Linked DNA regions of Homo sapiens. The protein of the gene in region 1 interacts with the protein of each later gene in a pairwise test. Each region holds a gene or a part of one and is shown in the gene's direction. Other genes may lie near its edges. The genes, in order: ASPH, PTN, GSC2 and SGTB.

Region 1 (7,035 bases):
ATAGCTAAGATATTATCTATAAAATTTGTAGGTAGAAGACTCTATAAGCACCTAGTATCATTACTTAGCCTTATTAATATCAATGGTAATTCTGTGACCAAATTATAGTTATTAAATATGCACTGCCACCATTTTATCATTATCATTATTTATAATTATAATAATTTGAGAAGTTGACAGATTATGGAATACTGTTTTATCTTAGGACGAGATATTCTTATATCTTTTGACAACCCAGAGAGAGACTTTCTTCTCTTAGTGGTAAGAAATTCTAACAGAAGGCCAGGAACAGTGGCTCACACCTGTAATCCCAACTCTTTGAGAGGCCAAAGCAGGAGAATTGTTTGAGCCCAGGAGTTGGAGAGCAGCCTGGGCAACATGGGGAAACCCCATCTCTACAAAAAAATCCAAAAATTAGCTGGATGTGGTGGCACATACCTGTAGTCCTAGGTACTCGGGAGACTGAGGTGGGAGGATCACCTGAGCCTGGGAGGCGGAGGCTGCATTGAGCTGTGATGGTGCCACCACACTCCAGCCTGGGTGACAGAGCAAATCCTGTCTTGAAAAAAATAAAGGGTTAGGTGGGAGGAGAGAAAGAGAGAGAGGAAGGGAAGGAGGAAGTTCCAACAGTGAGCCAAGCTTCCAGGGATGGAGAGCAGTGCCCACCCCCAATGCTGCTTCTCTGGGTCCTTAGACAAGGCTGTAACAGTACTTCCAGGCAGACCTCTGTCACAGGCCGCTCTGAAGATTGTTTCTCCAAAGGGCTGATTGTATGTCGTAATTCGAGTGTAACTTAATCTTATTTGATGGAGCTTTGTTCACAAAGCAAGTGGCCTGAAAACTAGTTCTTTGCATTCTAATGAGAGTCTTTGGTTTTCAGTCAGAAGCGATTTGACATCTTTATGCTCCTCTCCCTTTGTTGTGGAAAAAAAACATCCTTTCCCAAGCATGTGATACATCTCGAATTTAACCTGGAGTCACTTAAGTCTGGACATGGCTTGTAGGATGTTTTATTGTTCTTCATTTTCCCCTTTTAGGTGAATCGTGACTACAGTTTTAGTCATTCTATCTCTAATAACTGATTGAAAGACACCATTTTTTTAAGAATTCAGAAGAAATCTACATTAAAAAATCTACATTATGTTATTGACTATCTTTGCTATTTTCTGGGGAAATGTATGAAAGAAAGTGGAAGGGCAAATAAGTCCGACAGCACTCACTTTCCCCATAGAGTTTTATGACCCTGAAACAGGCCAATTAACAACCCTTTGGTATACCTCCCCAAATTTCTTATTTATACAATTGGTTAATTAATGGTTTACACTGATCTGTATTGTACTTAATGTATCTGGAAAGCTGCAAGCCTGTGGTTCTTAAGTTCTACTTTTATATGCACTGATGTTCCATGAGTGACCAGCGTGTTCCGGTGCTAATAACTTTTCCCAGTTCTCAGGAATTTAATTTAATGAATGGAATGCTTAAGGCCTTTTTCCCAGAAAACAATTCTAGATCTTTGGCTTTGTTATACGTATCATAATCTAGTGAAAAATGTCATTTTGTGTGGGCTAGAATTTTCTATTCAGTTATTTTAATTACTTCTAGTGTTTTAAGTAGTTTCCAGGTTCTCTGCCACCCAAAAAACTTTGAAAATCACTTGTCATTGCTGTACAAACTACATTTCACAGATGCTCTGAAGATGTTTTTATATCTCATCTCCCTTGGAAGTTTTTAGTTGTCTCAAAGGAAGGCAGACAACATCATAAAGAGTGATGCATATGTCATTTTTGATAACATACCACTTCCCAACATTTCACCTCTGTCTTTTATCTTTTCCCTATTTTTCTTTATATTTTCATTTTTCTGTCATTAATTGAATATCTACTATTGCCAATCATATGCTAATCCTCACATCAATTATGCCGATGAAGACACAAAGAATCAATTATGCTAAGTAGCTCACCTTAGGTCCCATAAGTAATAAATGCCAAGGTCAAGAGGATTCCCCTCAAAGACCATAAATTTCCATCTTCCTGTATTGCTTCTTTCTTTCTCCTCTACCACATGCTCTCCTTTGCCTTTCCCTTTTTTCTCTATTTAATTGTAGTAAAATACACATAACAAAATTTACCATATTATCCATTTTTAGGTGTGCAGTTTAGTGACATTAAGTACATCCATATTGTATAACCATCAACATGATCTATCCTCAAAACTCTTTCTAACTTGCAAAACTGAAACTATACCCATTAAATAACTCCCATTCCCGTCCTCCCACCGGCCACTGGCAACCACTCTTCTCCTTTCTCTCTCTGTGAATTTAACTACTAGTCTAGGACCTCAGATGTGTAGAATCAACTAGTAATTATCTTTTTGTGTCTGGCTTATTTTACTTGACATAATGTCCTCTGAGTTCATACATGTTGTAGCATGTGTCAAAATTTCCTTCCTTTTTAAGGCTGAATTAATATTCCATTGTATGTGTATACCACATTTTGTTTGTCTGTTCATTCACTGATAGATACGTGGGTGGCTCTCACCTTCTAGCTGTTGTGAATAGTGCTGCTGTGAACATAGGTGCACTGCCTTTCATTTTGAGTACACTTCCTCCCTCATCTTCTACATAAATTATAGGCTCGTTTGTGGTACCCACTGACATTGCTTAATCCCGGTGACAACACTGAGACCTAGAAAATGCCTGCCTAACTGTGGAAGCTGTGGACTGTTTCACTGATTTTTCTTGTCAGCGTATTTCCCCGCCTTGGTTTTGCCTTTCTTCTCAAGTTAGATTTTGCATGGTAATGAATGCATATTCTGTCATTTTCTCCTAAGTCCATAGATTTCTGTCTTTTGCTACCCTTGATGGAACTCCAATGGAACTCTAAAAACCTTCAGAGGAGTTGTAGAAGAGCCAATCAACATGTGTGTGTTGAATGCAAGAGATGAGGCAAGGTGTATTAGTCCGTTTTCATGCAGCTGATAAAGACATACCTGAGACTGAGAAGAAAAAGAAGTTTAATTGCACTTACAGTTCCACATGGCTGGGGAGGACTCAGAATCATGGTGGGAGGCAAAAGGCACTTCTTTTTTTTTTTTTTTTTTTTTGAGATGGAGTCTTGCTCTGTCACTCAGTCTGGAGCACAGTGGCATGATCTCAGCTCACTGCAACCTCTGCCTCCCAGGTTCAAGCAATTTCCTGCCTCAGCCTCCTGAGTAGCTGGGATTACAGGCATGCGCTACCACGCCTGGCTAATTTTTGTATTTTTAGTGGAGATGGGGGTTTCACCATGTTGGCCAGGCTGGCCTCGAACCCCTGACCTTGTGATCCACTGTCCTCAGCCTCCCAAAGTGCTGAGATTACAGGCGTGAGCCACCGCATCCAGCTGAAAGGCACTTCTTACCTGGTGGCGGCAAGAGAAAATAAGGAAGATGCAAAAGCGGGAACCCCTGATGAAACCATCAGATCTCATGATACTTATTCACTATGATGAGGACAGTATGGGGGAAGCTGCCCCCATGATTCAAATTATCTCTCATCGGGTCCTTCCCACAGCATGTGGGAATTATGGGAGTACAATTCAAGATGAGATTTGGGTGGGGACACATCCAAACCATATCACGAAGTGTATGAGATAGCACACTGGGTGGAGGTGGGAGGGTGGGTAGTAGAAGTAGAGGTTCAGTTCCCAACTTCAGTGAACTTTCAACTTGCAAATACTCAGTACTTTATCTGTTAGTTTACATAACTTGGAAATTTTATTATCAGACTTATTCAGTATGTCAGTTATTTTCCACTGGAATGATTTTTGCTCCTGCTCCCACCCTGGACATTTGGCAATGACTAGAGATGTTTCTGGTTGTCACAACTATGGCAAAAACTACAATTACTTTTGCACCAACCTCATGGTATAGGGAATGCTACTGCCATACAGTGGGTGGAGGTCAGGGGTGCCGCTAAATATCTCATAGTGCATGGAACAGCCCCTACAACAGAGAATGATCCAGCCTAGATGTCAGTAGTACCACGGTTGTGAAGCCCTGCAATATATGTAGTATTGCTCAGTTTATATTAGTTAATCACCTGATATGGAACATAAAAATTCACCACTAGTTTTCGCACAGAAAACCTCTTTATGATAATATAGTAACTTGAAATCAAGCTAGCATTTCCCATGCTATAATAGTCATTATTTGCTAATCCAGGATGTAAAATTTTGAAGGCTTAAGTGGCATTTTAGTATCTAAGGAAAATTTTCTAGCAAAAATTTTATTTTAAAAACATAACTTGGTATTTAATATATTGGCAGTTAATATCTATTTTTAAAATAAGGAACCATCAGTGTCCCTCATAAACTCTCTTTGGATTTGAAAAGCATTGTGTTACTGCCTCCTGTATGTTTCTCTCTTAATAGACTAACACTATATTTAGATCGCAGTCCCTATACAGATATCTTATGAGGTAAAGTTGGAAGCTCTATAGGGTGTTTTGCAGCATTGATTTAAAATATCCCATGGATAACCCACTTGCATAGAAGATGATACTAAAAATATAAACAAAATTTATTCCCAATCTGCCCATTTTCTTCAGCTGGAATACTAGCTAGGAAACTCCTAATTTAGTTTTCTGCTTTATGGTACTGTGTTTAAGCAGATTCCTTTCTTCCATAAAATGAAACTTGAACAAGTGGAGTGAGCTGAAAAGACAATTGATTGGAAGTGTCTTGAGAGGCATAGAGATGCCTGAGACCCAGTCACTGCCCATATGTCTAAACCAGAATAATTGCAAGACATGTAATAATATACAGAATAATTGCAAGGCATGTAATGAGACCAATATGTCTTCATCACAAATCCTCTGTTGTTTGTACATCTCCAGCACTGAGCAATGAAAACTGATGTTCATAGCAAGATTTCTGAAATTCTTTCCTAATCATCAAGGGAAGAATAAACTTGGGCTTGATGTTCTAGTTATTTGGTTATGTCCCAAAGGTTGTTACCAAAGGTAGTTCTCGCACATGGACAGGAATCGATCCTCAGACATCTGAACCACACAAAACTATATTCAGGAATCCTTGTCTTTCTGCTGCAGGACCTGGGAGGAAGGCAAGGTGCTCATCTTTGATGACTCCTTTGAGCACGAGGTATGGCAGGATGCCTCATCTTTCCGGCTGATATTCATCGTGGATGTGTGGCATCCGGAACTGACACCACAGCAGAGACGCAGCCTTCCAGCAATTTAGCATGAATTCATGCAAGCTTGGGAAACTCTGGAGAGAGGCTGCCTTTCTGGTTCCATCTCCTTGGGTGTGAGGATAGAATTTCGAACACCAAGAGTCAATTCCCTTGACTTGCAGCCCGAGTAATTCAAAGCCTCCTCCTAGGGTCAGAAGACACTAAAGGGAATATTTGCCTCGCTGCAATTCATTTAGGAAACACCCTGCTGTGTGTCATCTCATGACAGCACTGGTCTTCTGCCAGTATTTAAGGTGAACATTTGATAGCTTCTACCTTACCAGCCAAAGATATTTTTTCCACATAGAATAGGTCTAATTCAATGTATAATGAGAACATATGTAGAAACTGTGAATGGATTGCTTTAGTTTGTAATTTTTCTATGCAGTTATATTTTTCTAGTGTAGCTAGACTATTTTGTCATCATGTACCACTACATTTTTGTTTATTTTAATGACAAGCTGTATAAATGCTTTACTTCTAGCTATTTAATGGTAGCATTACTGGGGAACTCAGACTTCCCTCTTTTAATTCTTCTTAGTAAAAGATACTCATGAAAAAAGCAGTTTTATTTTCCTAACAAAAAAGAAAGAGCTCATTATGTCAGTGTCTATGAACTGTACCCATCCCAACTCTCAAATCGTTTGGTTTTTTTTATCTTGATTGAGATCCTCTTCTCACTATGCTAGTGGTGGAGATATTGACAAAATCCTATTTCTTTCAAAGAGGAACTTTTCACACCGAAAAAAGAGCATGGAATTATTTTATATTGTTATAAAAATCCCAGATGCAAATTTTTTTAATGCCAATTATTAGAGCTTCTGGGGAAAAAGTATAGTTCACGGAAATAAAACTATGTTCTTTCAGGGTTGGGTGGATAGGTGGCTGCTAGGGTGTCTGGCTCCTGGCGGCTTTGCCATCCATGAGGCAAGGGCTGGGAACACAGTGTCTTTGCCTATGGTAGATCCATGTGAATGTCAGGAAGCCAGCTCTTCAGTCTTGGAGATGATTTCTGCTACAATTCTGTAGAAAGATTAAGGATGGCAGAGTAAAAGGTTACCAAGAATGCCAGGATGTTTTTCTTGGGCGTAGGAGGTCCAGATTACTTTCCTTTTTGATGAAAGAGTTTGGAAGACTGTCCCATCTCTCTGGCTTGAGAAATCTCTGCCATTTTAAACATCACTGTGAAATAGCAATTATTATCATCTGTATTTAGTTTTAACATTACCCACAACATAGAAATAATAGGTAAAAATCGTCTTGCCTACTCATTCCAAAGATGATCAAGTCATTAATCTAGCAAAGTATTCATGTATCAGATTTTGTATATTTTGAATCAAAGCTAACTAGGAATGTTAGATATAAGAATGTAATGATATTCATGCACTGAATTCTAAGCCAATATGAACAAAAATGCTGCATGAATGGCACATATAGGTCACCAAAGTTCATTCACAGGTAGAAAAAACTTGTGCTTTCTTTTCCATCTAAAAACAAAAGGAGACTTTCTTTATCTCATTTAAAGAACAGCTCTTTGAAATTGAAATTGACCCTTTTTGCTTGACCTTAAGGAGATTAGCTTCCAGTAGATGAGTTTGCAAAATACTTTTCCTGTTCTTTTGTTTTGCTGGTATTGAAAACATCCCACTAAATCAGATGAAGAGGCATGGGAGGAAAAATATCCAAATTAATTACTAAAATCGAGAAGAGAAGGCAAACTCTTGAAAAGTAAAAAGGTGTTTGTGACCTTCAGTATTTATTGAACAGAGGAAATAACTGACAAGGGCAATACAATTCAATGTTCAT
Region 2 (7,035 bases), on another chromosome or scaffold:
GTGGAAAACGGTGTGGTGATTCCTTGAGGATCTAGAACCAGAAATACCATTTGATCCAGCCATCCCATTACTGAGTATATACCCAAAGGAATATGAATTATTTTAATATAAAGACACAGGCACACATAGGTTTATTGCAGCACTATTACATAGCAAAGCCATTGAACCAACCCAAAAGCTTATCAATGATAGACTGGATAAAGAAAATTTGGTACATATATACAATGGAATACTAGGCAACCATAACAAGGAATGAGATCATGTCCTTTGCAGGGACATGAGTGAAGCTGGAGGCCATCATCCACAGCAAACTAACACAGGAACAGGAAACCAAACACCGCATGTTCTCACTCATAACTGGGAGTTGAACATTGAGAAGACATGGACACAGGGAGGGGAACATCACACACCAGGACCTGTTGAGGGGTGTGGGGTAAGGGGAGGGAACTTAGAGGACCAGTCAATAAGTGCAGCAAACCATCATGGCACATGTATACCTGTGTAACAAACCTGCACATTCTGCACATGTATCTTGGAACTTAAAGTAAAATTAAAAATAAATAAATTTAAAAAAACACTAATAAGAGACAGCATATACAATGCCACAGAAAAGGAGAAAAATTCACGGGCAAGGATATCATCTCAGATATTTTTCAATGAGGAAAATAAATTAGAGAAAAGAATAATCTCAACCCCTTATATACATGAAACGTTTTATTGTTCACACTAAAGAGAATGTTGAAACACCTAAACTAATCTAGTACTACCTCTGGAAAAAAAATTATCAGCCTATGATCATAGGACATTACAACCATTTTTATGTGAAGTATAACACACCACTAACACAGCAGATGGAGCTCAATAACTGCCAGGCAAGTTGCTGCAGCCATGATATGGTGTAGCCATTGGGAAGTGGGTCGTCCTGGAGCTTGGACTGAAACTTTCTCAAGGGTGTTTTGGCCAAGTGACCATATTGACACTAGGCTGTCACAGGTGGCTTCAAGTTCTAGGAGAGTCTTTCTAATGATATCTTGGGATTTTTGATTCACATCAAATGTGAGCATTTCCTATTATGAGTGAGTGTAAAGACTTCACCATATCCTAAGATTAGAGGATTTTTAGCACATGCGAATTTATCATTGTGTTTGATATGTATCACAGGTGTGCTAGCTCTACTTCTGGGATTCACTCTTTGTTAGATCAATAAATAATGGAATAATAAGATGATAGTGATGATTATGACAATGATTTTAAAAAGATCAGAGATGTTGGTTGTTGTGTATGCGTCTAAATAGAAACAGTAAACATATACTTGTATAGGTAATTCATTCATCATGTCTACTCAAATTGGTCTTGTGTACAGCAGTATCATTGCTGTGGTTGTTTCTAATATTGTCAGGAATTTTGAAGATGGCTGTAGTTGTCGATATTACCAAGTGATGCTATCAGCAAGACAGTAGGACTGTGTTCAAATGCATGCCTTCAAAGTTCTTTTGCTTCCATAATTTCTGAGTCATACTTAGCAAATGGTTGTGAAGTCTTAAGTGAAGAACTGTTGCGTTTTGTCAGTGAATACGTGATTGATTGCAGAAGAGCACTTATTTCAATGGCTGTTGGTAAGAATAGATAAAATTCTACCCAAGATAATTGATATGAATCTTCCTGAAATCTAACATTCCAGAAATGGAAAGTGGAGCCTTTTCATCAAGGGTTCAATGAATCTTCCTTTCTGACTTAGGTTAATGCCACCTTCTTCTCTTTCTCTGTTTATTCCTAGAATGCAGGCTCAACAGTACCAGCAGCAGCGTCGAAAATTTGCAGCTGCCTTCTTGGCATTCATTTTCATACTGGCAGCTGTGGATACTGCTGAAGCAGGGAAGAAAGAGAAACCAGGTAAGCAGTAGGGTTCTGAAGGCAAGATGCTTCATTGATTAATGTCCATCTAGTCTAATTACCTGCTTTTCCTTCCTCTCTTCTACTCTGCCTCTCTCCCTTCCTATTCCTCTATTCCTTCAATCTTCCCTTTTCAAAAATAATTACTTAGAGGAACCTAAGAAATATCCTGTCTTATTTTTCTCCCATTGTAAGTCTTGGATTGCATGACGATGATGATCATTAATATAATGATCAAATTAGCAGCTACTATGTATAGAACATTGACCGGTAATCAGGTGCTTTATTATTTACCTCTCTACCTCAAAAAAAAAAAAATGCACTGCAACTTGTTTTTCTCCTTAATTTCAGATTTACAGAGGAGGAAACAAGCACAGAGAAGATAAAGCACCTTCTCTATGCCACTCCCAAAGTCATAAGTAGGCTGTGGAACTGACAGTCTGTTTAAATCTGTGATGCACCATATTTGTATGATGTCATTCCTTCTACAAGGCAGAGAAAGGAACAACAACTTACACTGAAATGGCTCATTTGACAACTGTTATTTCTTTTTTTTTTTTTTTGAGTTGGAGTCTCGCTCTGTCACCAGGTTGGAGTGCAGTGGTGCGATCTCAACTCACTGTATCCTCTGTCTCCCGGTTCAAGTGATTCTCCTGCCTCAGCTTCCCGAGTAGCTGGGGCTGCAGGCATGCACCACCACGCCCAGCTAATTTTTGTATTTTTAGTAGAGTTGGGGTTTCACCATGTTAGCCAGGATGGTCTCGATCTTTTGACCTTGTGATCTGCCTGCTTCGACCTCCCAAAGTGCTGGGATTACAGGCATGAGCCACTTTGCCCAGCTGACAACTGTTATTTCTAATAGAATATTTTCTTCATTTTTAGGAGAACTATATTTTTGACCATCTCTTCTTTTATAGAAATGTTTGCTTCTAAAAGGAGATGCCACTAAATCACTTAGCACAGTCTCTGGCACATAGTAAGAGGGAGTTCAATTAATATTAGTTTTAGCTCTTTTCTCAGTTTTCTTTCTCTCTTCTCTTGATCATTCATTGGTTCAATAATTTGGTTAATATTCATCATGTTTCTACTATTCATTAGACAATAAGGATACAGATTAAAAAACACAGATCCTGCAATTAAGGTGCTCAGGAATGAACTTGGTTATATCTGGAAGTTAAGGAGTTTTCTGTATGTTGATTAGGTTTTCCTCCTTTCATTCAGAAAAAAAAGTGAAGAAGTCTGACTGTGGAGAATGGCAGTGGAGTGTGTGTGTGCCCACCAGTGGAGACTGTGGGCTGGGCACACGGGAGGGCACTCGGACTGGAGCTGAGTGCAAGCAAACCATGAAGACCCAGAGATGTAAGATCCCCTGCAACTGGAAGAAGCAATTTGGCGGTAAGCCTCATGCTACTGAGTTAATCTCCTACTCTGAGATAATTCTCAAATTTTTCCACCAAATGTCTTTTTAAGGATAAGTACTTTTTATTTTAAATAACTTTATCTTACCAGACACAAAGTGACCAGACTGGTCCCATTTCAGGCCAGGCAATTATTTGTTGTGGAGGCTGTCTTGTGCATTTTAGGGTATTTAGGAGCATCGCTGGCTTCTACTCGCTAGTTTCCGGTAGCATTCCTCACCCGCTCCAGATGTGAAAACTAAAAATGTCTCCAAATATCTATGGCCAAATGTACCCTGTTGGTCAAAATCATCCCTGGTTGGGAACCACTGCCTTTCCAAAGGGACATAAAATATATCCTTGATTCCTCTGAATAATGTTAATTGATCTGTCTTCTCTCTCCTTTCTTCTATTTCTAAGTTCCTTTGATTTTTCCTTTCCCCTTTTCTTATTTATTCTCCTGCTTCTCCATGTTTCTCCCTGTCACTTTCAGACCTTCTCTCCCATTTGATCCCTCCCCAACCTCCACACAGTTTCACAGATTCACTTACTGAGTTCAGCAGGGCTGCTCACAGCCACGTTTCATAAATCTTTCTCCCACTGACTGGAGTCAGTCTTATGCTGGCCTGATCTATCTATCTGAGACAGGATCTCTCAACACTTTCAACTTTATATCCAGTATTGAACCCTCAAATAACCTCTTCCACAATCCAGACTTTTTGTCTTTCTTAGCCATAGTGGGACATGATGCCTGAAATGTCCTATCTGTGTTCTATGGAAATGCATTGTGGCCCATAGACAAGTGAGGAAGGATAATGGATGTATACATGTATGTCTTTTTCTCCCTCTGTAATCTTTGGGGTATTTTTTATTTGAATGGATATAGACAAGTTCTATAAAAGTGTGATGGAGAACAGGTACATTTGGTCTTAAATTGTATATGGGCACCTTAAAAACCCACTTACAAAAAGTTTAAAAGGTATATCTTAAAGACTTACATTGAGAATATTAAATAACTCTCAAACTCAACAGTAAACAACAAAACAACAACAACAAAAAACAAAACAAACAAAACCTAACAGTTCAATAAGAAAGTGGGGAAAAAACATTAACAGACATTTTACCAAAGAGGATATATAGGCAACAAATGAACTCCTGAAAATATATTCAGCATCTTTTCCTTATTAGGGAACTAGAAATTGAAACCATAATGAGATATCACTCTACATCTATCAAAGTGGCTAGAATAAAAAATAGTGACAAGACGAAATGCTAGTGAGGGTGCCAAGAAACCAGATCCCTCATATGTTGCCAGTGGAAATTGTAAGGTGGTACAGCCACAGTGGAAAAAGAGTATTGCAGTTTTTTACGAAATGAAACATGCATTTACCATGTAACACAGCAGTTTCTTGGTAATTTATCTCAGAGAAATGAAAACTGATGTTTCCACAAAAACCTATACATGAATTTATATAGCAGTTCTATTTGTAGTAACCCAAGGCTGGTAACAACTCGGATGTCCTTCAGCTGATGAATGGTTAAACAAACTGGGGTACATTGGGACCATGGAATACTACTCAGCAATAGGAAGAAACAGACTATTGATGCACATGACTTGGATGGATCTTCAGGAAATTATGCTAAATAAAAAAGCCAATCTCAGAAGTTTACATATTGTAGAATTCCATTTATGCAACATTTTTAAGCTAGAAAAATGATAGAGCTAGAGAACAGATAAGGAGTTGCCGGGGATTAAGGAGGTGGGGAAGGAGGAAGGTGGCTAGGCCATGACTATAAAGAATGACCCACTGTTGTATTGGGACTGTATATTAATAGTGTATATTAGTGTGTATTAATGGTGTATATTGATGGTGATCGTATGCATCTACACATGTGATAGAATTGAACAGAAATCAATACACACGCATACACTCTGTATTATTTCTTATAGCTGCATATGGATCTATAATTATTTCAATAAAAAAGTTACAAACAAAAGTGTGCCTTTATTATCCTGGAAGTACGATAGGATCTTTCAAGGATTTCTGTTTGGTTCTACCCTGCCTTTAGCGGAGTGCAAATACCAGTTCCAGGCCTGGGGAGAATGTGACCTGAACACAGCCCTGAAGACCAGAACTGGAAGTCTGAAGCGAGCCCTGCACAATGCCGAATGCCAGAAGACTGTCACCATCTCCAAGCCCTGTGGCAAACTGACCAAGCCCAAACCTCAAGGTAAGTCCTTGCCATTATACCACAATTTTAATGGATTGATGGACTCAGGTAAGATCTGGAAAACCCACATTTTCCAGAAGGAAATATTAGGTGAATTACCTTAAGAAAGTGACTGAAAAACTCCCCTACACTGAGAGTCACAAAAATACTTTAAAAATACTTTGAAGCAGGCAGCCTGTGAGTGCAAATTGAAGTCCTCTGCATAGATGAGGGGATTGGTACAGTCTCCTAACCCAAATAAATAACATAGCAAAAGAAACCAGCAAAGACAGTTGTATGATGACCATATATTCCACACTCTTAATTGGAACTGTATCCTGACAAGAAAAACAAACTCAGAATGTTTATGACGGAGACAATTTTAAATCAAACTTCTCCCAGATTATCTGAAATATAGTTTTCACAAAATCAGGAAAATTATTTTACATTTTCCCTTTATTCACTGCATAACTTAATGGGTTCTGCATTTGTTTTCAGAGCCTTTATATTTTTTGAGTTCAATTTGGTTACCAACTACATTCATCACAGAATTTTTAAATGACAGAGATCTGTATCTCCCAGAAAGTCAGGCTCTGCTCTCTTGCTGGAGAAGGTAAAAACAATCATTATGGCCATGAATTCATACATACAAGGATCCCAACTGAGGGAAATAAACTCTTTCATCATGGATGTTATTGTCTGAATTGTGTTTTCCCAAATTCATATGCTGAAGTTTTAACCCCCTCACAATGTCACTGTATTGGAGACAGGGTCTTTAAAGAGGTAATTGAGATAAAATGCAGTCACAAGGGTAGGCCCTAATCCAGTGCAGCTGGTGTGTTTATAAGAAGGGAGATTAGGACACAGAAATACATAGAGAGAAGACTGTGTGAAGACAGAGGGAGAAGAATGCCATCTACAAGCCATAGGGAGAACCTTCAGAAGAAATCAGCCCTACAGATGCCTTGATCTTAGGCTTGTAGCTTCCAGAACTGCAAGACAATAAATAAATAAATTTCTGTTGTTTAAGCCACCAACTCTGTGGTACTTTGTTATAGGAGCTATAGCCAACTAATACAATGGGACTCAATGAACTCTAAATTCAAATACCTTCTTGGCCTCTACTCATATATTTTAACTCTAAGGTGGTCCTGAAAATTCATACTGCCAGAGAAATTGTAAGGAGAGATTCAGAAAAATGACCATGTAAGAAATGCTCATAATAAATAAAAGTAGAAAAAAAAAATCTGCAGAAGGTGATGGAGATTGGCTGGTTTCCTGCTGGTGGCCAGAAAGGACTTTATTTTTCACAGGCCTGGCTTTTTGGCCACTGCTGGAGTTGTCCATAGAAATAGTTATCTCCAACTTCAGGATGGCCAGGTACAGGCTGGACCTGCAGGTGGTGAGTCTAGGGTTCAGGCTGCCCTTTCCAGATCATGGAAATCTCTGCCTGTTGTCATATGGTTTTTGGAAGGCATGAAGCAGGGCTGGAGTGACTGCAGTGAGTACTTATGCAGACTTCCCAAATGTCATT
Region 3 (7,094 bases), on another chromosome or scaffold:
CACACCTGTAATCCCAGCTACTCGGGAGGCTGAGGCACGAAAATTGCTTGAACCCAGGAGGCGGAGGTTGCAGTGAGCAGAGATTACACCACTGCACTCCAGCCTGGGCAACAGAGCAAGACTCCATCTTAAAGAAAAAACTTTTCTTTATAGAGATGAGGGTCTTGCTATGTTGCCCAGGCTGGTCTTGAACTCCTGGCCTCAAGTGATTCTCCCACCTCAGCTTCCCAAAGCATTGGGATAACAGGAGTAAGCCTCCATGCCCGGCCCTAAATCTTGCTTTTTGAATCATATCTTCTTTCTTTTTATTATTGGTAGCTAGAAGAAGCCAAGTAGCACCTTGAACTTTCTCTCTGGGTATGTCCTTAGATCATTTTATTCTTGGGAATACTATCTAGCTTCTATTTCCTATTTGGCTACAGGTGACAATGTTGCTAAACTTCCTGCCACTGCATAACAATGGTCTTCTTTCCTCCATCTTCCAGTAACAATTTCTTCACTTTCCTCTAAGTCCCCACTGTCAGCCTCTGCAAGGTCCTCCCAGCTCCTGGACACTGCCCCATCCCAAAGCCAATGTCACATGATTTAGGTTTTGTATCAGCAGCACCCACCCCACTTCCAGTACCAGATCCCGTTCTGCTTATCTATAGTTATATAACAAACCACATCAAACTTGGTGCAGTAAAAACACCCAGCATCATCTATTTTATTATATTTCATAGTCATGGGGCTTGACTGGGCTCAGGGAGGGGATTCTCAGTTTTGGTGTCTCCTGTGGTTGCAGTCCAATGGTGGCCGGGGCCAGAGCCATCTGGAAGGCTTCCTCACTCACTTGTAGGTGACCCGTGCAGGGGGTGGATGGGTCCTTCAGCTGGTGCTGCTGGCAGGAACACGCCTATCCTCTCCCGAGGCTGCCTGTGCCCCTCACAGCATGGTGGCTGGGTGTAAAGATCAAGCATCCCAAGATGTGTGAGAGAGAGAGAAGGAGTTGGGTTGCTGATCTGATCTGTGTGACTCTGTGTGTGACTTGGCCTCAGAAACCACACGATGTCAGTTCTGCTGCATTCTATGGATTACAAGCAAGTCGTGAAGGCCAGCCCATGTTTCAGGAAGAAACCCAATTAAACTCCCAAAGGGAGCAGCATCAGAGAACCTGCCAGCATGTTTCAGAGGCGCCAGAGTGGCCAGGCACGGTGGCTCACACCTGTAACCTCAGAGCTTTGGGAGGCTGAGGCAGGTGGATTGCTTGAGGTCAGAAGTTCTAGACCAGCCTGGGCAACATAGTGAGACCCTATCTATAATTTTTTTTAAATTAGCCAGGCATGGTGGCGTGTGCCTGTGCTCCCAACTACTTGGGAGGCCGAGGTGGGAGAACCTCTTAAGCCCAGGTGTTCAGAGGCTGCAGTGAGCTATGGTCACCCACTGCACTCCAGCCTGGGTGAAAGAGCGAGACCCTGTCTCAAAAGTAAAAAAACAAACAAAAAAGGCCGGGCGTGTAATCCCAGCACTTTGGGAGGCCGAGGCGGGCAGATCACAAGGTCAGGAGATCGAGACCATCCTGGCTAACATGGTGAAACCCCGTCTCTAATAAAAATACAAAAAAAAAAAATAGCTGGGCATGGTGGCAGGCGCCTGTAGTCCCAGCTACTCGGGAGGCTGAGGCAGGAGAATGGCGTGAACCCGGGAGGTGGAGCTTGCAGTGAGCTGAGATCATGCCACTGCACTCCAGCCTGGACGACAGAGCGAGACTCCGTCTCAAAAAAAAAAAAAAAAAAAAAAAAGGGAGGGGGGCAGGCCAGGCAGGCACGGTGGCTCATGCCTGTAATCCCAACACTTTGGGAGGCTAAGGCAGGCGGATTGCTTGAGCTCGGCAGTTTGAGACCAGCCTAGGCAACGTGGCAAAACCCCCCCAAAACAGAAACATTAGCTGAGCATGGTGGTGCACCTGTAGTCCCAGCTACTTGGGAGGCTGAGGCAGGAGGATCACTTGAGCTCAGGATGCCAAGGCTGCAGTGAGCCATGATCACACCACTGCACTCCAGCCTGGGTGACAGAGCAAGACCCTGTCTCAAAAAATAATGCAAAATAGAAAATAAACTTTTTGAAAAAGTGCCACAGTGGGCCATTTACCAAGGTGGACTGGTAAAGAGGCAGGGCACACGCAGAGGCAAATAGGTAGAAGAGAATGAGCACTAGAGATGGACAGGTGGGCAGTGGCCCATTTGTAAAAGTGGAGAACATAGGGTAAGAAAGGGATTTTGAGAAGACCTTGAGTTCCTTTCTGGCATGGTGACTGGGAGAACTTTATTGGTAGTGGAGATGGAGATGTGGAGCAGGCTCCAGAAACAAGAGCGTGGAGCAGAGAGAGAGGCCAGGCTGGAGGTGCACTTGTGAGTCACTGTCACAAAGATGGTGTCTGGAGCTCCAAGGCTGGAATAGGTATTGAGGGTGAGAATGGGAAAGGATGAAGGAATGGCCAGGGCTAGGAGGAAGAGGGCTCAGCAAATGTTGGGCTGGCTCTCCTGACCAATGACCCTGCCTCCCCCATCATAGCAGCACTCTGATTTTGGAGGATGGTCCAGATGCAGTTCTGTGAGGGAGGTCTGCTGAGGGAGGAGGGATCCATGGCCATCCAAAGGGCCATGGGAGGAGATGAAAAGTGTGGGGCTGTGGCAGCCATTCTACCACCAAGAGGTGGGTGGAGGAGGGGTTGACAGAGCCACTCATGGAGGTGGCAGCTCATCACTGAGCCTCCAGACTACCCCTGGGAAACCTATGTGGGAGCTCTTGTGACAGAAATTAAATCAGCAGGTTCGGTCACAGTGATGTCCACAGCACTTTCACTGATAGCAGAGTGGGGATGGCAGAGTCTTGCAGAGGGGCTGGCGGCGGGAGGAGCGCAGGAATACGCATTGCCCTGGGGAGGCGGCCAGGTTCTAACCGTCTCACACCTAGTCACTACACTTTACAGATTGGGAAAGCCAAGCCCAGAGGCTGAAGACGCCTATGGAGGTCACACGGCCAGAAATTGACAACGGAGTATGAGCCAGGCCGTCTGTTTCTCTGTGCTATGAGTCCCATACTGTATTTTCAAAGGTCAAGAGGAAAGGGTCTTAAGCTGAAGTGACGGTCCCGCTGCCAGGAGCCGCTTCACTGAGGGTGAAACAATGTAGCCAAGTGCGGGTCACCTGCGCTGTGGCAGAAGGGACCGAGGACGGTGTGGCCAGAGGACTGGCCTGGGCGGAGAGCGAGGAGGGGGAGCCCACAGCTTCTGGGGGGCAGTGACAGTGCGGGGAAGGGCGAGGTGCAGTGTTGGATGTTTTCGCGGGGATTCTGGGACCAGTGGGAAAGCTGGAGGACAGGCGGCTCTGAAGCACCGAGGAGGGGCCTCGGAAGGGGCGGGGAGGTCTCCTTGACACAGGTGAGGAGACGGAGAACTGGGGGCACCCGGCAGCCCAGGCTTCCTGCCGCGCTCTCACGCCCTCCAGGGCCATGAGACCCTGGCTCCGAGGTGGCGGGCAGGTTCGGGACCCGAGCGCGGCGGGATCGTGCGGTTGCCGGTGGTGCTGGGCCCCATGGAGGCTGCGGTCCAGGAGTTTCGGGTGGGCGGCTAGGCCGAGCTTCTGCAGGCGTGCTGAGCCGCCGCAGTAGGGCCCCAGAGGGGACGAGGAATTAGGCCCAGCCGAACGAGGGGGAGCCACCAGAGGCTGGGCCGGGAGGCACCGCCGCGCTCTGGGGAGCTGCCAGGGTCGGGGCGCCCTCCGAGCGGCTGCCAGGCCCCGCGGGCGGCGGCGAGGCGGCCCTCCGCCCCTTCCCCGCAGGTCGCCCTGCCAGCTTGAGCGGCGGGCGCGGGTGGGGCAGGAGGACGCGGGGCGGGGTGGGGGGCACAGGGGGCCCTCTCTGCAGCGCCCCCGGCCCCCGCGCGCGGAGGCAGGGCCGCCGCAGTCGAGGATTAGCGCGTTCGCGGCCGGCGCTGCGGGATTAACCCGCGTGGACTGGACGCCCGGCCCGGGGATTACTGCGCGCTCCCTCCCCGACGTATATATTCCCGCGGCGGCGGCGCCCCGGCCGGGCCGGGCATGGCGGCAGCGGCTGGGGGCGCGGCGAGCCGCCGGGGTGCCGGGCGGCCCTGCCCCTTCTCCATCGAGCACATCCTCTCCAGCCTGCCCGAGCGGAGCCTCCCGGCCCGGGCCGCCTGCCCACCGCAGCCCGCCGGTCGCCAGAGCCCCGCGAAGCCAGAGGAGCCCGGGGCGCCCGAGGCTGCGCCCTGCGCCTGCTGCTGCTGCTGCGGCCCCCGCGCGGCGCCCTGCGGGCCCCCAGAGGCGGCCGCCGGGCTGGGTGAGTGGGCGCGGAGCGGGGCGCGGGGCCCGGCGGAGCCCGGGGCGCGGCGCAGTGGGTGCCGAGCTTGGCCCCAGCCCCGCGCCTCACCGCGCCCTCGCTCCGCAGGCGCTCGTCTGGCGTGGCCGCTGAGGCTGGGACCGGCGGTGCCCTTGTCTCTGGGTGCGCCAGCCGGAGGTTCCGGGGCGCTCCCGGGCGCGGTCGGCCCGGGTTCGCAGCGGCGCACGAGGCGCCACCGCACCATCTTCAGCGAAGAGCAGCTGCAGGCGCTCGAGGCGCTTTTCGTGCAGAACCAGTATCCTGACGTGAGTACGCGCGAGCGCCTGGCCGGCCGCATCCGCCTTCGCGAGGAGCGCGTGGAGGTGAGTGCCCCGCCCAGCCTTTCCCCGGAGCGCGCGGGCCGCGGCTACACTGGACTGGGGTCCTGGCGGGCGGGCGCCCTTTGCAAAGACGGCCTCGGCCCAAGCCCCGCCCTGGCGCGCCGGAGGGAGGAGGTCCCTGGACGGCGCTGGGCGTCCGGGGGTATGAGGAGCGGGTGAGAGCAGGGAGGTGCCGCGGGAAAGGAACCGGAGGGCTACTTTTCTTTTCTTTTGTTTTACACTTTCCTCTGGTGACGAAAGAGGCCCGCGTTCACGTCCAGAATTTGGGAAATTCAGAAGAGCCCGCAACCCAAGAAGGGGCGTCCTGGTCGCCGCCAGCTGGAGGCTGGGGCGGGTACTAAGGGGGTTCCCATCTCGCGTCCAGACCCACCGAGTCTGTCCGCAGCGAATAAGGGCAGGTGGCGCGCAGCCGCGGCCCGGGTGTCGGCTCTACAGCGCCGTCCGCCCACATCCCTGTTGCGAAGCTCCCCTCTCGGTCCCTGTGGGACCCTCGGGAGCCGGTGGGACGCAGGACCTGGGGCTAGGGCTGAGCATTCCCCCCATCCCCAGGTCTGGTTCAAGAACCGCCGGGCCAAATGGCGACACCAGAAGCGCGCGTCGGCTTCCGCGAGGCTCCTGCCCGGCGTCAAGAAGTCCCCGAAGGGGAGCTGCTGATGACTCTAGGAGCTGCCCCTGGGCTCGGCCACCCTTTTTGGGATCTTTGGAGTTGGCGCTGAGAGAAGACAGGTCTACCCGAAAAGGAGCTGGGAGAGTACACCGGCCGCCTCCACCCGTCTCCACAGCCCTTGCCTCCTGCAGCTCGTGCTGCCGTGGCGCTGGGGACGGGCCCCCGGTGCTTGGTGTTCCACGGCAGTGGGAGTGGCGAGTCCCTTGGGGGTGGGCTGGGGCATAGAGCAGTTTCCTCAGCTCCCTACCCCCCGAGAGACACTAACTCCACCGCAGGAGGGGAACCACCCCGTATCAACACGGGACCCAGAATCCTACGCAGTGGAGCGTCTCTCCGCACCCTGGGACATGCTGGCCACCCTCTTCTCAATGTGGACATTGACCTAACTTGACCTGGCTCGTCCTCCCCCAGCGGGAGAGGGGATGGGGTTCGTGTCTGTGCAGTCCTGGCGTTGCAGGCTTCCCAGGCCCTGGGCTGGGTCTTGGTATCTGGACCTGTAGAATAAGAAGGTCGCAGGAGCGATTCCAGGAGCCCCTCCACAGTCCCTTCACCTTCGAGCCTCGCGCTGATACTGAGAAACTAGCAACTTCAAATACCACAGAAGCCGCCCAGAGTCTCAAGTCCACCTTGGCTCCACTCCCACACCCAACAAGGAGCTGTCCCTTCTTCTTCCTTCCCAGCGAGGGGGTATTTAGGGTACAGCTGTCTTTGAGAGGAGCACAGCTCAGCGATCCTCAGTCTCTGCACCAGGGTGCTCCCCAGCAGAGGGGACTGCTCCACGGATGGTGGCCTTGGACCCCTGGGGTCCAGCCCTGGCCTCTAGGCTACTGTGAACCTGCCCATGGGTGAGGGTCCCCTGCTTCCTCCTGGGGTTTTCATGCTGTGGGCTCGGACTCCCTCACAGCAATCTGTGCCATCCTAGGGTAGGGCAAGAGGAGGTTGGACTGGGGAGACCCCGCCCCTGCTGCCTGGGAAGATGCCTGCCCTCCCCTTCTTTATCCTGGCCCATGGCAAAAGGCACAGTGGAAAGAAGCCTTAGATTCCCCAAGTAGGCCCTACAGTGGGTCCAAAGCATCTCACATCCCCACCCCCAGCTGGCTTGAGCACCTCGTTCTGTCTCCTTACAGGCCCTGCAGGGAATGGGGCCATTCTACCTGCAAGAGATGAAGTCCATCTCTAAAAGCAGGACTGCAGAAGCCAGGGCTGCAGCTCCCCAGACACCCCAAGGCTGGCCAGCTTGGATAACACCAAGCAAGCATGGTGTCCCCAGTCAGAACTGCCCTGACACTGCTGGGTGTCCCTAGCATCCCCGCCTCCACCCCTAGCATGCACACAAAGCCCTTCTCCCTGAACCCTGGTCTTGCCCTTGGGGACTGAACAGACTACCTGTGGACATGCCCGTGTCCCAGTCAGCTCCCTTGCAGCTGGGGACACTCGCATCTCACAGGCTCCAGGCCCCTTGAGTTCCTTGGTTGAATGGCCATCTGTCATTGTTTTGGGAGCCCCGATCAGAGCTTGTGGAGCGCCACCTTCCAGGGCTCAGTGGCTGTGTTGCTCTCCTGAATTTGCTTCTTGAGCTCTAGCTGCTCCTTGGCAGGCTGACCCCCCACAGCAGGCTATTAACATAGGCATCCTTCACGCTCACACCCAGGCGCTCGCTTCTCATCTTCACCCTCTTCCCGGTTTATCTTTTACCCTCAGACTCCAAT
Region 4 (4,717 bases), on another chromosome or scaffold:
ATATCTGATGTGTGAAAATAATGGAGGAAAACCTCTTGTGTATATTCTTAAAGAATAAATCTGTTTAGACAATAGGTTTATCACAAACAAACTCAAAACATAACATGACTCCTTTTGAAATGATCACTAGCCATGTTACGTGCCAATATAGCACTGGGATAAGGTTCCATTTTCAAACTTCTATCATATTTGTATATTAGACTTAATAGCAAAGCATATTTATTGAACTCTAGTAGGGCTATTTGTTGGTAAGCTCTTTAGCTCCAATTTCCCTTAAGCAAAGTTTTTTGAGAAGGGAAATGACCCAAAGGAAAGGTTTCCTATGCTGGTTGAGAAGAAGTGTACTTGCCACTGAGCAGTATGTCAGGAAAGAAGGAATATTATCTAGGTTTAGCTTTGATAAGTGCTATTAGTAATGAATATATAACATGGGAACCAATGTTATCTTTAATGTTGCTTGTTCTGGTGAACAGAGAATCTTAAGAGCTGTTAGAAAGTAGCACTTGATGCAAGGGATGTTTTGAAAAGAAAAAATTGGTAATGCGAATGTATAGAAAGTAAAGGTAGGATGCTCAGGTTTTCTGCATAGTTCTTAACTAATCTTGTCTGCAGTTTGGTATTGATAATATTAGCATGGCCACTTATGCTAAATACACAATAAGATACATTTAGAAATCCTTAATGTACTGGTTAGGTCAGTGGTACAACTGTTTGACTTAATTATCACAATTTCCCCAATGGTAACCTTACCTTGGAAACTATCAAATATAAATATACTTTAACTAAGCCAGTGACCTGGTCCTAAGTTAAGGATTTTCTAAATGGTATTTAATTGTGTGCCCATAAACACTGATTTTTTTTAAAAAGAAAACTTAGTAATTATTTGATGGATAACAAAAAGCATCTATCACTAACATTGCTTGTTCATGTAATCTTCTGTGATAATTTGGCTTGGCATGCCAGTCTTATAATTAACATAATTTAAATTTGATGCAATTTAAATATAACAGGAGACTTAAAATATTTTATTATAAATTAGATGCCATATTAGTTAGTGGAGAAAAGGGGCATTAGGTATTAATTGCATGGGTCTAACTACATTGATGATGAGAGTTTAATTCCAACTAGAGTATATTTTTTGTTTATTAATAATGAAATTGGTGCTGACATGTAATGACTTCACAAGTTTTACGAGGGAAAACTGAAAAAGGAAGTAATATAAATTTTGTGGGGTTTTTTTGAGATGGAGTCTTACTCTTTTGCCAGGCTAGAGTGGTGTTGCAATGTCAGCTCACTGCAACCTCCACCTCCTGGATTCAAGTGATTCTCGAGCCTTAAGCTCCCAAGTAGCTGGGATTACGGGCGCCCACCACCACGCCCAGCTAATTTTTTTTTTTTTTTTCTTGAGATGGAGTCTCTCTCTGTCGCCAGGCTGGAGTGCAGTGGCGCAATCGCGGCTCACTGCAACCTCTGCCTCCCGGGTTCAAGTGATTCTCCTGCCTCAGCCTCCTGAGTAGCTGGGATTACAGGCACGTGTCACCATGCCCAGCTAATTTTTGTATTTTTAGTAGAGACGGGGTTTCACCATGTTTGCCAGGATTGTCTCAATCTCTTGACCTCGTGATCCGCCTGCCTTGGCCTCCCAAATGCTGGGATTACAGGCGTGAGCCACCGTGCCTGGCCGCTAATTTTTGTTTTTAATGGAGAGAGTTCCACCGTATCGGCCAGGCTGGTCTCGAACTCCTGACCTCAAGTGATCTGCCCATCTTGGCCCCTCAAAGTGCTGGGATTAGAGGTGTGAGCCACTGTGCCTGGCCAGGAAGTAATATACAATTAAATGAGTAATAATGCAGATGATTAGGCCTTATAGAACCCTTATCAAAAGACTAATTGGCCGGGCGCTGTGGCTCATGCCTGTAATCCCAGCACTTTGGGAGGCCAAGGCAGGGGGGATCACCTGAGGTCAGGAGTTTGAGACCAGCCTGGCCAACATGGTGAAACCCACCTCTACTGAAAATACAAAAATTAGCCTGGCTTGGTGGCGGGCACCCGTAGTCCCAGCTACTTGGGAGGCTGAAGCATGAGAATTGCTCGAACCTGAGAGGCAGAGGTTGCAGTGAGCCAAGATTGCGCCACTGCACTCCAGCCTGGGTGACAGAGCAAGACTCCATTTCAAAAAAAAAAAAAAAAAGAAAAAGAGACTAAGAGACTAATTATTTTGTATCTTGAAGTTTAAAATCCAACTTTTCTCTTTCTCCTTTGTGACATTAGAACAGTAGTTCTATAACTTCATTGTAAGAATCACCTGGATAATTCATTAAAGATGCAGATTCAGGGCCACGTGTTCAATTCTGATACAGTAGGTCCTGTAATAAGGCCTAGGAATGGCCATTTTTAAACAGTACACTAGGTGGTTTTGATACAGATCCAAGGACTCTAATTTAGAGGAACACTAGGTTAGAGGTTTCTCAGACCTGCAAACACCTAAGCACCTGGGCCAAACAAAGCTACAACGAAGATCTGTATGAAGATATATAGTTCTGCAGAATTTAAAAAGAGCACAATTTAAGTCTTCGGCCCTCAGAAGTTAAATTCATATTCCATCTAAGCCAACTTTGATTTTCATTAAGTTAGAATGAACTCCTAGTATTCCAGTATTACACAGAACGAAGTACTACTACTAACACATAGAAGTCATTACTGTGATATAAAAAGCAAAATAGATCCTTAATTAAAAATTAGTCACTCATATTCAGTGTTGAATAAGAAGTTAAAGTTTCTAGCATAACTATCTTGAGTGCATTAAAAATGCTTTTAGAGCAATAAGATAAGCTTCTAGCTGACTGCCTAGAAAAACAGAAGATACAAATTCAGTGTCAGAAATGAAAGGGAATACACTACAGACACTATAGTTATTAAAAGGCTAACTAGAAAACACCATGACCAACTCAAGGATTGTATATTTAACAACTTAGATGAAACAGATTCCCTATAGGATACAAACTAGAAAGCTCACTGTAGAAACAGATAACCTAAACAGAACCATATTTATTAAGGAAATTGAGTTTGTGGTTAAGTTAAAAACCTTCCAGTAAAGAAAACTACAGGCCCAGATAACTTCCGTGATGAATTTTACCAAACACTTAAGGGAGAAATAATATCAATTCTAAACAATCTCTTCCAGGAAACAGAAGAGGAGGAAATACTTCCCAACTCATTTTATTTGACCAGTATTACCCAGACAAAGATACTATAAGAAAAAAAACTTTAAAACAATGTCTTCATGTGCTAACATCTGTAGTTAAATTAGCCATTCTTTTTACATGAAATAATGGGAATTGGTATATTTCTTCCATTTCATTTTTCTATTTCTTTGCTAATATACCACCTGTAACAAATTCAATCTAGATGCTATCTGTCCACTTGCCTACATTTCCATTCTATTCAAGCCATTTTTGCTCTTCAAGTACCTTGATCACTTTGGAATCATAGCATTGCAAGCTATTTCAAAAAAAGTTGCGTGGTTGGATTGTGCTAGCTACTTTTAAATTTATAAAAAATGCCCCATATATTTTCTTGCTTGTCTGGGAAATATAGTTGCTATCTAACTAGAAAAATAAGAGGGCATTATTAAAGTAACTCTTTAAGCATCGTACTAAATGTTTGACTTCCATTAACCATATTTCTTGTAGTAGCTGTAGCTATTATGATACTGTGTAAAACAGAACAGGTTCTATATATGCAAATGACATTTTCATTTAATGTACCAAATTGTGTATCTAACTTTTATAATATAGGTTAAACAGATCCTTTCTAAGATGGCATTATTTAATCTTTACTTAAAACTATGAAAAATATGTGTAAGTTATTGTTTATAAACAGAAGAGACTATAATTAAAATATAGAGCAGATTCCAAGTGACCATCATTTTACTTTTTAGATTTAAAACAGAATGAAACAGAAGATTTAGTCATAAGAAGATGCTTGAAAAACAATCCAAGTATCCAATGCAGTGGCTATAAAATATTATTTCATCATTTAATCTTAATCATTTTGAAACAAAGACAGACTTCAATTTTACACTGCTTGCACTTTATTTTGTACAGACATTTCATTAATTATTACTCAATTTTGAGGTGCAAACCTTCTGAATATAGCTTTCATTTTGGACCAAACAATTTGTTATGGCAATAAATAATGATGCATTGAAAAACCAATTTTTGTATTTGATTTAATGCACTCTTACATTTAAGAAATTATATATACATTCTTGAATTTCAACTTACCAAAATAGAATAGCTTTTATTTAACAGCCTAAGCTTTTGTTTTCCTGACAAATACTGAAACTTTTTGTTACATTAATGCTGCAAAGTTGTTTATCACCTCAACTTTCTCACTGCTTTGCTCATAACTAAGTGTGATTACATGGAGAGAGAAAGTTTTGTAACAGTAACACATGATTTAGAGTTTAAAATCATATCAGAAGATGGGAATTATTTAAATATACCTTATAAAAATAAGTGGCTTAATCAATGAGAAAAAAACCCAGGGGTTTTTGGCTTATAATTAGAAAATAAGTATTATTCTTAGTTAATAGTTAATTAAAAAAAATCAACAACCTAAAAAGTAAAACCAATTCTGATGTGTTCAGTAGCTGAAAGATATGTATGTTTGTAGGTATAATATACAAATACAGACACAAACCATTACAGTAATT

Evidence for each region.
Region 2: the proteins of ASPH (region 1) and PTN interact in binary tests that used the Homo sapiens proteins (3 or more experiments, as listed by UniProt).
Region 3: the proteins of ASPH (region 1) and GSC2 interact in binary tests that used the Homo sapiens proteins (3 or more experiments, as listed by UniProt).
Region 4: the proteins of ASPH (region 1) and SGTB interact in binary tests that used the Homo sapiens proteins (3 or more experiments, as listed by UniProt).

What each region holds. Positions count from the first base shown.
Region 1 is NC_000008.11:61,501,561-61,508,595, reverse strand, and holds part of ASPH (aspartyl/asparaginyl beta-hydroxylase), read left to right. Parts: intron 1-5,086; coding exon 5,087-5,237; 3' UTR 5,238-7,035.
Region 2 is NC_000007.14:137,249,717-137,256,751, reverse strand, and holds part of PTN (pleiotrophin isoform 1 precursor), read left to right. Parts: intron 1-1,777; 5' UTR 1,778-1,778; coding exon 1,779-1,893; intron 1,894-3,114; coding exon 3,115-3,288; intron 3,289-5,360; coding exon 5,361-5,522; intron 5,523-7,035.
Region 3 is NC_000022.11:19,147,269-19,154,362, reverse strand, and holds the start of GSC2 (homeobox protein goosecoid-2), read left to right. Parts: upstream 1-4,070; 5' UTR 4,071-4,079; coding exon 4,080-4,338; intron 4,339-4,446; coding exon 4,447-4,700; intron 4,701-5,267; coding exon 5,268-5,372; 3' UTR 5,373-7,094. UniProt on the Homo sapiens protein: May have a role in development. May regulate its own transcription. May bind the bicoid consensus sequence TAATCC.
Region 4 is NC_000005.10:65,665,428-65,670,144, reverse strand, and holds the end of SGTB (small glutamine-rich tetratricopeptide repeat-containing protein beta), read left to right. Parts: 3' UTR 1-4,217; downstream 4,218-4,717. UniProt on the Homo sapiens protein: Co-chaperone that binds directly to HSC70 and HSP70 and regulates their ATPase activity.